Linked DNA regions of Homo sapiens: region 2 is linked to region 1. The links come from fine-mapping of genetic effects on gene expression. Tissue or cell type: whole blood. Region 1 holds a variant in brackets; the other region holds the start of a gene. All regions are shown on one strand. Distances are from middle to middle.

Evidence for each region. PIP is the estimated chance that this variant, and not a neighbour inherited with it, causes the effect.
Region 2: it holds the start of FAM20C, and the variant in region 1 is fine-mapped to the expression of FAM20C in whole blood (TOPMed, PIP 0.98).

What each region holds. Positions count from the first base shown.
Region 1 is chr7:106,067-113,373 of GRCh38, reverse strand. It overlaps LOC105375114 (a long non-coding RNA gene), which reads left to right. Exons shown (of 3, transcript XR_926959.3): 3 at 1-718. Among named protein-coding and RNA genes, the nearest start is that of LINC03015, 40 kb to the left of the region's middle. RefSeq lists an enhancer at 3,984-4,700. The variant G/A (reference allele first, on the strand shown) is at 3,522.
Region 2 is chr7:188,676-195,982 of GRCh38, reverse strand. It overlaps FAM20C (FAM20C golgi associated secretory pathway kinase), which reads right to left and starts at 3,412. Exons shown (of 10, transcript NM_020223.4): 1 at 2,179-3,412; 2 at 251-429. The coding sequence starts at 2,783. It overlaps LOC124901808 (a long non-coding RNA gene), which reads left to right and starts at 5,865. Exons shown (of 2, transcript XR_007060632.1): 1 at 5,865-7,307. RefSeq lists enhancers at 1-635, 7,060-7,307.

The DNA of each region.
Region 1 (7,307 bases):
GCGAGGCATAAAATTACAGACCCAGACATAACCATGTCAATACTTATTTAAATATGAGTGGACCAAAGATTTCAGGTAAAACGCAGAGGTTGTCAGAATAGATATGAAAACAAGACCCACACACATGCTGTCTTCCAAAATTGCACTTGAAGAACAGAGACACAGGTAGCTTTAAATGACATTAAAGTTAAAGCATAAACACTGGAAAGGGAGAAGAAGAACTGCCTCTTTATGCAGATATCATGAATCATGTATGAGGAAGTATCTTAAGAAACTTACAAACAACTAGCATAGGCACTGAGAAAGCGTGGTCTACTCATCAACCACAAACAGGAATGAAGCCCTAACATGCCACAATATGGATGAACCTTGAAACTGAAAACATGATGAGTGAAAGAAGACGGACACAAAGGGCCGCATGTTATATGATTCCAGTTATACGAAATGGGCAGATCTAAAGAGGCAGAACGCAGGTTAGTGGTGACAGGAGCTGGGGGAAGGGAGGAACAGAGAGTGACACCTCGATTGATGTGGTGTCTCCTTTCTTGGTGATGCGAATGTCCTGGGGCCGACAACGTGGTGAACGCACTGGATGCCACTGAATTGTGCACTTCAAAATTGTGAAAATAGTGAATTTTATAATATGTGAATTTTACCACCATAAAAACCAAACTATTAGTACAAATAAAATTAGTTTAGCCAAGTTGCAGCATTTAACTTTCATAGAAAAATCGATTGTATGTCTTTGCTCATCAATATACTACCGTGCCACTTATGGTCCTTTTGAAGAAATGAGACAGCTGATGCTAAGATTTACATGGAAAGACAAAAGGGTTAAAATATCCAGAAACAACTTTGAAAAATAAGAACAAGGTTGTGGGGCCCACGCTACTTGATTTCAAAAATTACTATACAGGTATGGTAATCACGACAGTGTGGTTTTGGCATCAGGAAAGACACAGAGGCCAACTGAGCCGAAGGGGAAGTCAGAAAGACCCACATTTATATAGTCCCTTGATTGCTGGTAAAGGTAAAAATTTAATTCTTTCAGAACTAGCTGTTTCAATAAATGGTGCCAGGATAAGTTGATATCTACATGGAAAAACAAAATAACCTTCAAGCCTTACCTCCCACCACATGCAAAATTATCTTGAGATGGATCATGGACTGAAAATTATTAGAACTTTTAAAGTTCTAGAAGAAAACATACAGAAGAATTTTTATGACTTGGGCTAGAATAAACATTTTTTAGAAACAAGATGTGAAAGCACAGATGATAAAAAATGATAAAACAAATTCAGCAAAATTGAAAAGGTTGCTCAAAATTAAACAGAGTTAAGGGAATGCAAAAGCAGACTACAAACTGGCAGAATAATTTTACAAAATCCACATCTGACAATGGGCTTGTACTCAGAATATATGAAGATATCTTATAAATCAATAATTTGAAAACTGCAGTTAAAAATTGAAAAGGACTTGGACAAATACATGACAAAAAAGATATATGACCCATAGGCACATGAAAAAATGATCAACGTCACTTGCCATCAGAGGAGTACACATTAAAAGCAGTCTAAAGTTAAAAAGATTGACAATACTAAGTGTTGACAAGGATATAGAACAATGGGAATTTACATACAATTTAAATTGGAATGCATGAAATTTGGTTGGAATTTTAAATGGAAATACTTTGGAAAATGGACTGACACTATCTAAGAGGTAAAACATTCACTTACCACATGACCCAGCAATTCCAATCCTAAATATTTACCCCAGGAAAATGAAAACATATGTCCACACAAAGACGTGGACACAAGTGCTCACACCAATGTTATTTGTAATACATCCAAACTGCAAACAGCCCAAATGCCCATCAACAGGCAAGTTGGTAACCTACGGTGCATGCATATTATGAGATACTACCCATTAATAAAAAATGAACAAAATATTAAGCCTACACGACATGGATAAGTCTTGAAATCATCAAGTTAAGTGGAAGAGATAGAGTACTGTTCCATGTCTATGAGCTTCCAGGAAAGGCAAAGTTACAGGGACAGGAATCAGATCACTGTCTGCCTGGGGCTGGGAGCTGGAGGAGGGAATCTAAAGGGGCAGGAGAACACTTTTTAGGAGAATGAAATGTTCCACATCTTGACTGTGGTAGATGTTACATGACTGTATACAACTGTCACATGAATGGGCTTTACTGTTTGTGAATGAAACCTAAACAAGCTAGCGAAAGAAACAGAAGGAGCATGGGCCGGCTGAAGCCGTGTCTGCAGGTGGGTGCTGGAGGCCCTGGAGCCGCGTGGCACAAGCCACAAACCTCAGGTGTCTCCCGTGGGTGGCTGGGGAAGATTAAGGCAACCCTCAAGAAGCCCACCAAGGCGCCACTGGGGGCTCCTGTCTTGGGGCTGTGTGGGGCCAGCCTGGGGAGGCGGGAGCCTCATAAGAGTCCCCTGAAAGCTACTTCATTTCCAAGCAGAGAAGGGGGTGGGGGTGGGGGGTGCAACACAGAAGGGTCTTGATGGAGAGGGTGTCTGCACAGCACAGTGATTACAGCCCAATCAGGGGTCAGACTTCCTTCGTGGACAGCCTGGTTCTCACCTGCATTCGCTGTGTGACCTTCAGAAAGTGACCTACCGTCTCTGTGCCTAGTCTGCTCTTTAGTAAAAGATGGCTAATGAAGTGGCTACCTTACTGGGCCCTTGAGAGAATGAGATGAGAGAATACAGGTACAGCACTGAGAGCAGCACTGGGATACAGTAGGTGTTCATAAATGGCACCTGCTATCATTATTAGTGATCTAGGAATAGGACCTTAGCTTAAACCCCACTGTGAGAAAAAGGGAAAAGCAAGGAGGAGAGGCTTGTCCAAGGCAGCAATCCCATCTTCCAGACACCAGGCCAAGAGTTCTGGAGCCCGAACACAGGCGTGGCAGAGAGCCTTTGCTGCCCTTCCCCTGCCCACGGGGCGGAGGGGAGATCTCGGGCCCCACAGCTCCTGAGCAGGGCTCGGGGGTCACCCTCAGTGCTGGCAGGGAGTGCGGAGTTGCTTTGACTCACTCAGGAGTAGGTTTGAGCCCTGGTTCCTTTCCTTATCACTCAGAGGCCGATGGCGCAGTAGCTGCCTGAGGAACACACAGCCTTTGCAAGTCTTTGGGAAACAGGAGAACTGTCTTCCTTTGTCCGAGAAGCACTCAAGCTGACGGACAGTGGTGCTGCTACTTGCTGCTATTTCTCTCCAAACTTTGGGACTGCGGCCACAGCGGCGGCCACAGCTGTTATTCCTTGTGTCTGCCAAGGGTCTGAGAGTGGCCTGGCGATTCAGCTGTTCCCTGCCCACAGCCCACCCTACGGGATGGGGCCAGTGATGTCGGATCCCTGGTGGTCCTGGTTCTGGCTATCGCTGGAGGGGACACAGACTCCACCTGCGTTGAGCGTGCCGCTCCCTGTGTTCTCCATCTCCATGTTCCCACCTCTTCCTGCTCTTTTCCCCGTGCTTTCAGCTACCTAAGGGTC[G/A]CCACTTACCGTCCCTGCAGAGTGCAGAGATTTCTCTTTGAAGAAAAGGTTCTGGAGCAATCAGAGGGGTGAGTGTGGATGCAGCCAGCCCCAGCCCTATGCTGCTCCTCAGACTAATGGTGCTGAAGGCTAAGAGAACGAATAAATGGTAGTGAGCGTTTTTCTCATTAGGGTTTTAAAATCCTCCAAGTAATAGATCATTTTGTAGCATCTTACATGTCCTGCTTATCCTAATAATGTGTTATTACTGAATCTCAATAATTTTAATGGGGAAATTCTTTATCTTAAAAAATGTGAAGTGGCTATCCATTTAAAAAGTGTTAACGAGGTAACTCCAAGGGTTTCAATGAACAAGGAGGCCCATAGCTGTAGTGACCCAGTGCCTTCGTGTTTTAGACACTAGCTGAGATCTGCACACTGGAGCCATGGCCGTGGAGGGAGCAGTGACCAGGACCTGCCTCCCGCAGTTGGGGGCCTTTGGTGCTCAGCCCAGGCTTCTGTGCTGGGATGCAGGGCCAGTCTGTTCACACAGACCAGGATAGGCCCTGGACGCGTGCACAGACAAACCCCCACAGGGGTTCATTTTATCTGGGGTGTGGCAGGGAATCATGAGCTGAACAGAGATGCTGGATGCCGAAAACAGCCTCTGTCCCTGCCTCTCTGCCAGCGCTTGCTGTTTGCCTGGAAACAATCCCTCTCCTTCCTTGGCTGCAGTTTTCTCACCCATGAAGACGTGTTCAATGCAGACGTACCGAGTTTCCTCTGGGTCTTCCTGGTTGCCTGGCGTCTCCAAGTGCTCATTTCTCTTCCTTGCTCTTGCCCACCCCACGGGCCCTTCCCCCGTGAGCGAGCTTCACAGACACACACAGACACTAGTGGTTTGGGGTCCTTAGTTGAGGCCATCTTAACTGGCTTCCCTCACCTCCCGAGTGGCAGGCTAGGAGGAAGCGGTGGTTTATTACAGGGACAGATCACACTGTGCCAGGGAAGGCCAGGAAAATATATTCCCATTTTACTTCCTCTAATAATCTCCTATTTTCATCAGTGGGTGAGTGAACATGGCTTCTTCTTCCCAATGATGGTGCAAATGTATAATTTCTCCCAATGAAATCTGATTTTAATGAGAGACTAAATCAGAGGAAAGAGTATTATTTAGATAGTATATGCACATGTCAGGTTAATTTAAAATCAGCTTTTAGGTCAATCTATCTTAATTATTCTATTAACCGTTTTTGACTAGCAATTCCAATAATTGTGTTTGCGTAATACTTGGCAGTGTAATTGCTTTTTGGATTCTCTTCATTGTTTTGTCAGAGTCTGTTCCTGGGCCTCTGTCCCTGGTGAGCTGTGCTTGGGTTGAGTGTGTGCTTGGGTTGTGTATGCACATTCGTGCAACTGCACATGTGCTTGGGTTGAGTGTGTGTGTACAAGTGTGTGTGTGTGCACATGCTTGGGTTGAGTGTGCAGATGGACGTGCATGTGCATGCATACCTGGGTTGTGTGTGTGTGCACATGTATGTATCTGCTTATGTGCTCTAGTTGAGCATGCATGGGTGTCTATGTGCACATGTGCTTGGATGGAGTGCATGTGTACATGCACATATGTGCAGAAGTGCTTGCATAGTGTGTGTGCATGGGTATCATGTGCATGTGTGCTTGGGTTGAGTGTGTGTGCACATGTGTACATGGGTGCATGTGCTCAGGTTGAGTATGTGCATGTGCACACGTGTTTGGGTTGACTGCATGGGCATGGGCATGCAATGCATATGTGTTTGCATCATGTGTGTGCACAGAAGTGCATGTGCTTGCATTGTGTGTGCATGGGTATGCATGTGTGCACGTGCTTGTGTTGAGCATGTGTGCATGTGCTCAGGTTGGGTGTGTCATGGGTGTAAGGTGCACACGTGTTTGGGTTGACTGTGGGCACAGATGCACACATGCATGCATGCTTGGGTTGAGTGTGTGTGCACAGGTGTGCATGTGCACATGTGCTTGGGTTGAGTGTGTGCCTGGGTGTCATGTGCACGTGTGCTTGAGTGTGTGCATGGGTGTCATATGCACATGTGCTGGGGGAGGTGCTTCCCTGATTATTAATGAATGTATTTTCATGGGGTTTATTGATATCAAGGACCCCTGTCTTTATTTTTTATTTTTAAAATAAACTTCATTTTAGAACATTGTTAGATATAAAGAAAAATTGTGATGATAGCACAGAGTTCCTGTATACTCCACACCCAGGTTCCCCTACTCTTACCCTGTCACATTATACTGTACCTTTGTCACAGTGAATTAGCCCATGTCGATACAGTAGTAGGAACTAAAGTCCATACTTTATTCACATTCCCTCAGTTTTCCCTTAATATCCATTTTCTACCTCAGAATCCAAAGTATGATGTTACAGTTGGCCCTCATGTCTCCTTAGGGCCCTCGCAGCTGTGACAGATTCTCAGACTTTCCTTATTTTTAGTGATCCTGACAGTTTTGAGGAGGACTGGTTGGGTATTTTGTGGAATGTCCCTCATTTGGGACTTGTCTGATCTTTTTCCTGTGATTAGTTTGGGGTCACGGGTTGTGGGGAGGATGGAAAGTGACCTTCCCACAGCATCACACCAACGTCCTTGCTGTCTGCGTGACTTGTCACCGGTGATGTCAACCTCGGCGATGTGGCTGAGGCAGAGGTTTCCAGTTTTCTCCACTGTAAAGTTGCTCTTTTTCCCTTTTCATACTGTATTATTTGGAAGGAAGACACTCTGCAACGCTTATACCTTTAATTGTTTATTGATGCATAACATTTTACATATTTATGGGGTGCATGAGATATTTGGATACGCGCATGCCATGTGTAATGATGGAATTGGGGTATTTAGGACGTTCATCACCTCGAACGTCTATCCTTTCTTCATGTTGGGAACATTTCAAATCTTTTCTTCTCGCTATTTCAAAATATACAGTATGTTGTTGTTAACTATAATCCCCTCACTGTGTTATCAACACTAGAACTCACCCCTCCTACCAAACCGTTTATTCGTACCCATTAACCACCTTCTCTTCATTCCCTCCACCCGCCCCCCACTATTTTTTAAACAGCTTTACTGGGTTATAATTCACATACCATGCAATTCACCCATTTAAAGTGTACAATGGTTTTCAGTATATTCACAGAGTTCTACAGCCATTACTACAGTCAATTTTAGAAAATTTTCACCACCTCAAAAAGAAACTCCACACCCTTTAGCTACTCTCAGCCACCAGCCCTGCCCCCACCCCCAGCCCTAAAGAACCACAAATCCTCTTTCTGTATCTATGGGTTCTGCACGTTTCTCAAAATGTAAACATATAGTGCGTGGTCTTTTGCGACTGGCTTCTTTCACTTCGCATAATGTTTTCAGGCTCATCCACCTTGTAGCCTGTGTCAGCACTTCATTTCTTTTTTCTTTTTCTTTTTTTTTATAAGTACTTCATTCTTTTTCATGGCCAAATAACATCCTGTTGTACGGATACACCACATCTTCTGTAGCCATTCGCCAGTCACGTGTATCGGGGCTGTTTCCATTGTTTGGCTTTATGAGTGGTGCTGCTACAAACGTTTGTGTTCAAGTTTTTATTTGGATGTACTTTTTTGTTGTTTGTTTGTTTGTTTTGAGACAGTCTCGCTCTGTCGCCCAGGCTGGAATGCAGTGGTGCGATTTCGGCTCACTGCAACCCCTGCCTCCTGGGTTCAAGCGATTCTTCTGCCTCAGCCTCCCGAGTAGCTGGGACTGCAGGCATGTGCCATCACGCCCAGAT
Region 2 (7,307 bases), 83 kb before region 1:
GCGCAGTGGACCGGCTGTCCAGGCGTCTCCCCGCTCATCGTGCGGCAGATCAGGAGCACATCCAGTGTGAGAGCACACGAGACGCGAGCCCTCTGTCCCTCCTCGCTGCCCGTGCAGATTGCTGCAGGAGGTGACGCTGCCGTAATGAGCAACGGCCTCCCAGACCTCTCTAACACATAGCCTGCCCCAGCAGCCCTGATGCCACACAGCCGGCACACAGACGGCCCTGAGTGCACCCAAGGACACCTACCCACGCTGGTGATCCTCTGGGAGCTGAGGTCGTGCAGCAGGGCCTCGATGGCCGGGTTGTGTCTGGAGTACAGCTCGTACCGGTTGATACCAATGTGGAACTTGAGCCAGTTGGGATAGGAGTCCACGGCCGCCTCCCCGGGGGAGAGGAATTCTGCACCTTCAGCACCCGCATGCGGCCTGCAGGGAGCAGCGAGGACGAACATCAGCATGGAAAGAACAGGCCCGTGAGTCGGATGACGGGGAGAGGGCACCGACGCCAGTGTTTTTAACTTTGGGTTCAAGCAAGTGCAGATGTGTTGAAGGCGCCTCTGCTTAAAGAGGGCCCTGCAACGTCTGCGCTTTCTTCTGTGGCCGCTCGGCTGCCAACTAATAACACGGTGAAAGGCCTGTAATTCTTACTCACCCTCTGGAGACACCACAGACAGCTCTAACTACAGCAAAACTAATTCCAGGACGTCAGCGCTGCCCTGCCATCCCCGCCACGTCTGTCCCAGGGTCACCGAAATGGCCCAACCATGACCTCAGCTGAGGGTGCGAGGGGCTGTGGCCCTCCCCTGGAGTAGAGGGGAGAACCTACCATTGACCACAGGCTGCATGAAACTCACAGACACGCCCAGTCTGTCAGGAACCTTCCCCAGCTCTCTGCTTTTGTTCCAACAACCAGGGGCACAATGATGCAAGAGGCTAAATTTGATTTTAATGAGAGCAGCCTTGGGTGGGGAGAGAGGAAGGAGGCAGCACTCTCTCCAGCCCAGGCTCCCATGGAGGACCCGCCGCCCACGCAGCCTGTCCTCACATCTCTGGGGTCAAGGGACCGTTCTGGAGGAGGGACAGACCCTCCGTCTGCCTGCTGGGCTGGAGGGAAACGCGGAACTTGTCCTAGCTCGAATTCACCTAAAGCTGAGGTGCTTTCTGCCGAAGCTCTGTCCTGCGGTGGACACGGGGGCGGGGTGGGGGGCTAGGATACACTTCCTGGCCACTCGCTGCTCTGGGCGGCCGTCTCTCCCTGCCGAGAGCCACAGCCCAGGCCAATGCTCTGGTTCTCAAATTTCCAAGCATTTCCTTGAACCTGACCAGCAGGCAAGGCTCAGAGGCTTCCAAACAGCCAGTGTGTTTAGACAGAAGACACTGGGCCTGGACATTTCAGGGAAGAAGGGACTTTCAACCAGATCTTTTGGAAGGCTGGTCTCCCCCTCTGCTGCTGGGGTAACCTTCGGCAGGTAGTTACTTATTCTGGCCTTGTCGTGGTTAATGTTCCACTGCTTCGGTGTAGCATCTGCTTGTTTTGATCTGTGTGGCGGAGGGAGGGGCCGGGGGGTGGGGAAAGGGCTTAGCCAGGACAGTTTAAAGAGAGGTTCCTGCCGTGGCTTCTCGCCCTTTATCGAGCCATCATCTCTTTGCAGCCAGCACACCCACCGCCCTTGCTGGCTGGGCCGCCTTGTTGCACCTCACGGCTGCCAGCAAGCCCCTCTGATAATTCTGCTCCAGCCACTGGGTTTAAAAGACTCAATAGGCACATCCAGACCTTCTCCAAGGTGCCCACCCAGAGCACCCTCGCCAAGTGTCTGAAAGCCCAGCGGCAGCCTGGCTCCTTCCCTCACCAACTCATTCATTCATTGCCTGACCCCATTTCCCAAGCTGGTGACCACGGCTGGTCAGGACTCGCTTCTAAAGGGCGCGGGGTCTGGCTTCCTCACCAGCAGCCACAGGGCACAGCTCCCGGACCAGCCGGCAGCCCCTCCCAAGGAGGAGGTTATTCTGGAGACAAAGGCAGCGCCCTGAGGTAGGCGGCTGCCTCCTCCCGCACCACACTCCCTGCCCGGCCTCTTCCATGGGGGGCGGCCCTCTGGGGCCCCTGAACCTCTCTACACCATGCCTTGGGCTCACGGCTCCCTTGGGGGTGGGCACCTGCCAGCCCCCACTCACCAGTCCGGGTTCTCCGCCGCTTTGGGGCTGAGCCTGGTGTCGCTGTTCACATTGAACAGGACGTCCTCCTCCGTGAGCGGCGGAACCGCCACCCGGTAAAGCGGGTGCTCGAACAGCCTGGCCAGGAGGGAGGCGTCTCCGCCGGGGCCGGGGGGCGACTCGGACCGACGCGGGCCGGGGTCTCGCAGCAGCGGCCGGTGCGCGGGGTCGTGGGGTCTTAGGGCGCCGGGATCCCGCCCCCGCAAGGCGCGCTCGGCCGGCTCGGCCGCGGGCGGCAGTTTCTCCAGCGAGTGGGACGAGAGGTTGGAGGAGGGGTCGGAGCTGAAGTCCTGCAGGATGCGGAGCGTGTGCTTGTTGGGCCAGCCCGCGTCGCCGGCGGCGGAGGAGGCGGCCGGGGGCTCCCCGGGGCGGCCCCGAACCTGGGCCCAGCCGGGCGCGGCCACCTCGGCGGCGGGCTGCGCGCACGAACAGCCGGGCTCCCCCGAGGGCCGCGCGCCGCGTCGCTCCAGCCTGGGCAGCAGGTCCAGGGCGATGTGCAGCGCGCAGGCCACCAGGAACACCATCAGGATGAGCACGCGGAACCGGCGCACCAGCATCATCTTCATGGCCGCGCGGGCCGGCCCGGGCCTGGAGCGCGTTCTGCCCGCGCGCCCCTCTAGCTGCAGCTGGGCACGAGCGCGGCGCCGCCTCGCGGGTCAAGGTCCATCGGTGCCGGGCGGCTACCAGCTCCGGGGCTGTCCCCGGGCCCGGGCCGCGTGCAGGGCGCCCGCCGCCGGAGCGCTGGGTCCCCGCGCCATCTCGGGCCCGTCCCCGCTCGGCCTCTCCGGAGCGGCCGCGCCCTCAGCCGGGGAGCCCAGGGGTCCTGGTCCGCGGAGCCGGGCGCGCGGGGGGCGGCTGGGGCCGCAGCAGGGGGAGGCTCGGCGCTCGCAGCCGCCGGCGCGGGGCTCATCGGGCGTGTGGGTCCATCCCGGCCGGGGCGCGACGGGCCTGGGCGGTGGCGGCGGCCGCAGGCGTCCCGATCCTCAGCGCGCTCCTCTCCAGGCGCCGGGCGGGCGGGCGGGGAAGGGGCGGCTCCTCCGGGCCGGGCTCTGCTCTCACGCCGCGCCCGGGAGACCGGGGCTGGGGGGAAGGGGGGGGCGAAGGGCGGAAGGGGTGGGCGCGGGGAGCGGCCGGCGGGGTCCCGGGCAGGTGCAGCGGCCGCCCCGAGCGCAGCTCCCGCCTGGCCGAGCCTCTCGGCGCCCCGCGTCCCGGGCGGGCAGATATCGAGCGCCGCGGAGCCGCCCCCCGCGTCAGCGCCCACAGATTGGCGGAGCCGCCGCCCCACGAGTCACGGCTGGGCCCGGGCCGGCTGCGCTCCCGCTCTCCTTCCTCCTCCCCTCGGCCGCGCCCCGCGACGCCTCTGAGCTCCGGGCCCGCTAAGGAGAGGGCTCCTCCTGCCCGCGGTTTGCAGAGGGAAGCGGCGGAGACCGGGAGGGCGCGCTCGGTTCTGGCCAGGCCAGCAGCTGCGGCCGAGTGGGGGGCTCCGGCCTGGCCGCTTCCTGGGACCCCCTCCCGCCCGGGGCCGCCGCCGCCAGCTGCAGCCTCTCGGCTCCTCCCCAGAGGAGCGCGGGGCCGGGGCCCAGGCCAAGTCCCTCCCCGGAGCCGCGGGGCGTCTGCGCCGCCGGATGAGCTCCCCGCCGGGCGGCGACCCCGTGCCCCACGCCCGTCTCGGCAAGGAGGAGGCGGAGGCGGCCCCGCGAGAGAGGCCCAAGGAGCGACTGGGCCTGGACCCAGGGGACGCCAGGGCAGCGGAGCTCCCGGCACCGGTCCCGTCCCCCCCCCCCCGCCCACCCGCGGGACGCGCCCGCCTTAACCCTCCAGGCGCCGGGCCCGCTGGGGGCGCTGAGAGGGGCTGGTGTGCCGGGGGCGCCTTCCTGCTTGGGGCCGACGGGGGTGTGTGAGTGCAGGCGTGTGCGTGTGTGTGCGCATGTGTGTGTGTGGATGTGCGTGTGCGTGTGTATGCCTGTGTGTGTTTGTGTGTGCGTCTGTGTGCATGTGTGTGTGCACATGCATGTGTGTTCACGTGAGTGCATCTCATCTGTCACCCACAACCAGGGGAGCGGTGCTTGTACAACCAGCTGGTGGCTTCTGCAACCAGCAGCTTCTGGCCGTGCAGCTCCCTGTAGGGAATATGAGTTAATCTGGATGTCAGCCTAAGATGTAGTCAGGGAGGTAAGTGTGTGGGAGGAGGCCACATCCCCTGTGCCTCAAGCCGGCTGCTTCCACAGTGCCCAGACTGCCTGGGCCAGCAGCCTCGCCAGCAAGCCCAGGCGGGTGGGCCGGGAGCAGGGCCTGGGCCCCCCCTCTTACTTTCACCGGCTGGCTGTGTTACCAGGGCCCTCTCCGCCCTCTCTGAGCCTCAGTTTCCTCTGATGTGAATTAAGGGCGTTGAGCCCATTGTTCCTGAGGAATCACTCATCTCTGAGCCTGGCCCATTGCCTGGCATTCCGTGGGCACCCACTAGATACTTATAAGGGGAGAAGTTGTTCCAGTCCGGCTGGCCAGTGGAATCCATGCGTCTTGGGCCATTTGAAGTGAGTGAAGGGCTGGGTGCGGCCCACCTGGAGCTGGACTGGAGGCTGTGTTGGGTGGGGCGGTGTGACCTGGAGGTGGGCTGCCCCCTCAGGAGACAGCTTCACCCCTGTGAGTGGACCTCATCCTTCCTTCCTTCCACTCACATGGACAGCACATCTGTGTGTAGACAGGGTCACTGAGAGAGGCCAAGGAGGGTGAGGAGGAAGATCCCGGGTGTGGGGGGAGTCCTGGGGGAGCAGACAGCAGGGACAGAAGCCTGTGGCAGGAAGGAAGGTCTTGGCCTGTGTTCTCCCAGCAAGGGTCCCCTTGGACTTGGAGTTCTATAGGCTCCTGGCCCCCCCATCTCTCCCGTGGTCTACAGGACCTCGACGCAGAGCTGTGGCTAGTGTCTTGGGGCAGACATGGGGCTGAGCAGACCCCATGGAACACTATTATCCGGTGTGGGGGGCCTCATGGAGGTTCCCTGGGCACTTACTTTCACTTGCCTCCTGCCCCCAACTCCTCTCCCCTCCCATCCTCACCCCCAGAGTGGTTTTTGGGAGCCCGGCAGCTATCTGGACCCGTGTGCACCCCTGGACGCCTCCCTCCCTCGCAGAGGGTCCTGGTTCATCTCGTCTGTTGCCTCTTAGAACAGTGGCCTCTACCTCGCCAGGTCCTTCAGAAGCGCCCCCCTCCCTGCCCCGCCACTGTTTTCCCAACAGCACCCGCCGTGGTCTGAGGACACTTTCTTCTGCTCCTGTTTATTGTTTATCTCCCCCAAGCACAAGCAGTCGAGTTAAGACAGGAGCCTCGTTCAAAGTTCCGCCCGGGGCCAGGCACAGCGCAGGCTCTCAGAGGAGGGCCCAGGAGTCCACAGGCTGCGGCGGCGCGAGACAAAAGTCGGAAGACAGGACCCCGCTGAGGAGTGAGGAGACAGCGGCCAACCCTCCGCCAGACCCTTCCGCCTGGTGCCTTTACTGGGCTCTGAGGAGGAATTTGGTGGTTCAGTCGGCCCATCCGTGGACACCATAAAAACAAAGAGAAAACAGACACACACAGATGCACACATAGATACACACAGATACACACAGACACGGATATATAGACACACACAGATACACACACGTGGACACAGACACACACATAGACACAGATATATAGACACACACAGATACACACACGTGGACACAAACACACACAGACATACCCATAGTTACGGATATATGCATGGATACACAATACACAGACACACAGATGATACATGCATAGACAGATATATGGACACACACACACGGACACACAGATACACACATAGACACATAGACAGACACAGATACAGACACAGGCACATGTAGACACACATGGACATACAATACTCAGATGAACACAGAGATAATATACACATAGACACAGATCTATAGATACACAAAGACATACACACAGATATACATAGATGCACACATAGACACAGATACACATGTCATCACACATGGACACACACAGACACACACCAATACACACATAGACATACGAAGACACAGGTACACAGACACGTATACACACAGACACGCATATATACATACAGACGCAGATATACACACAGACACAGACATACACACACACACAGACACAGATATACACAGATACATGGACAGATACACATTCACATACACACATAGATACACAGAAACACACAGACACACAGACACATAGAGACACACACACAGCCACACAGGCCCTGAGCCTCCCTGGGCCCTCCCTTGTGCAGAGGCGGAGGGGCTGGCTGTCGGGGAGGGCACCTGGAGAGGACACACAGCCCCATCAGAGACCAGGGAGTGGCTCTGGGAGCTCTTTTCGTCCAAAGGGGCTGGAGCTCCAGTTAGCCAAGGTGAGCGCCAGGTGGTGACAGGAATGACATAGGAAAATAAGACGGCCCGGGCAGGGAGGGCTGCCTGCTCTGGGTGTGAGGGGATTGCTGTCTTAGACCACGTGGCCCAGGAAGGCCTCCAGGCATGGCTTTGCACAGAAGCTGGTACCTGAGGGCTCAGCCCCGTGGAGGCCTGCGGGGTGGAAATGCCAAGGCTGGGGCAGGGGCATGTCTGACCCTCTGCGGGGAGAGAAGGCCTGTGAGGTGGGCATTGTGTGAGGGGCCAAGTGGCCTCTGTAAGGTCTGCAGGTGGGGCCAGGCTGTGGGCTGCGTCCTGAGTGAGGGGGCCGTGGGAAGGCTGGGGACAGAGGGACGACGCTGGGTCTTGGGTCGGGAGAGGCTCACCTAGGGGCCGGGTGGATGGGTCTAAGGAGGGCTAAGGGCGGGGCAGGGAGAGCAGCTGTGTGGTGAGGACGAAGGGAGGTCGGCCAGAGCCCCCGGGGAAGGGCTGTTGTCATGTGGATGAGCTGGGAATTAGGAAAGCTTGTGGATTGCGAGGCCTCAGTATGCAAAGCCCTGGGACAGACGGGCCCCCCAGGAATGAGGGGGGCAGACGGGCTCCCCAGGAATGAGGGGGGCAGACGGGCTCCCCAGGAATGAGGGGGACAGATGGGATCCCCAGGAATGAGGGGGGACAGATGGGTCCCCC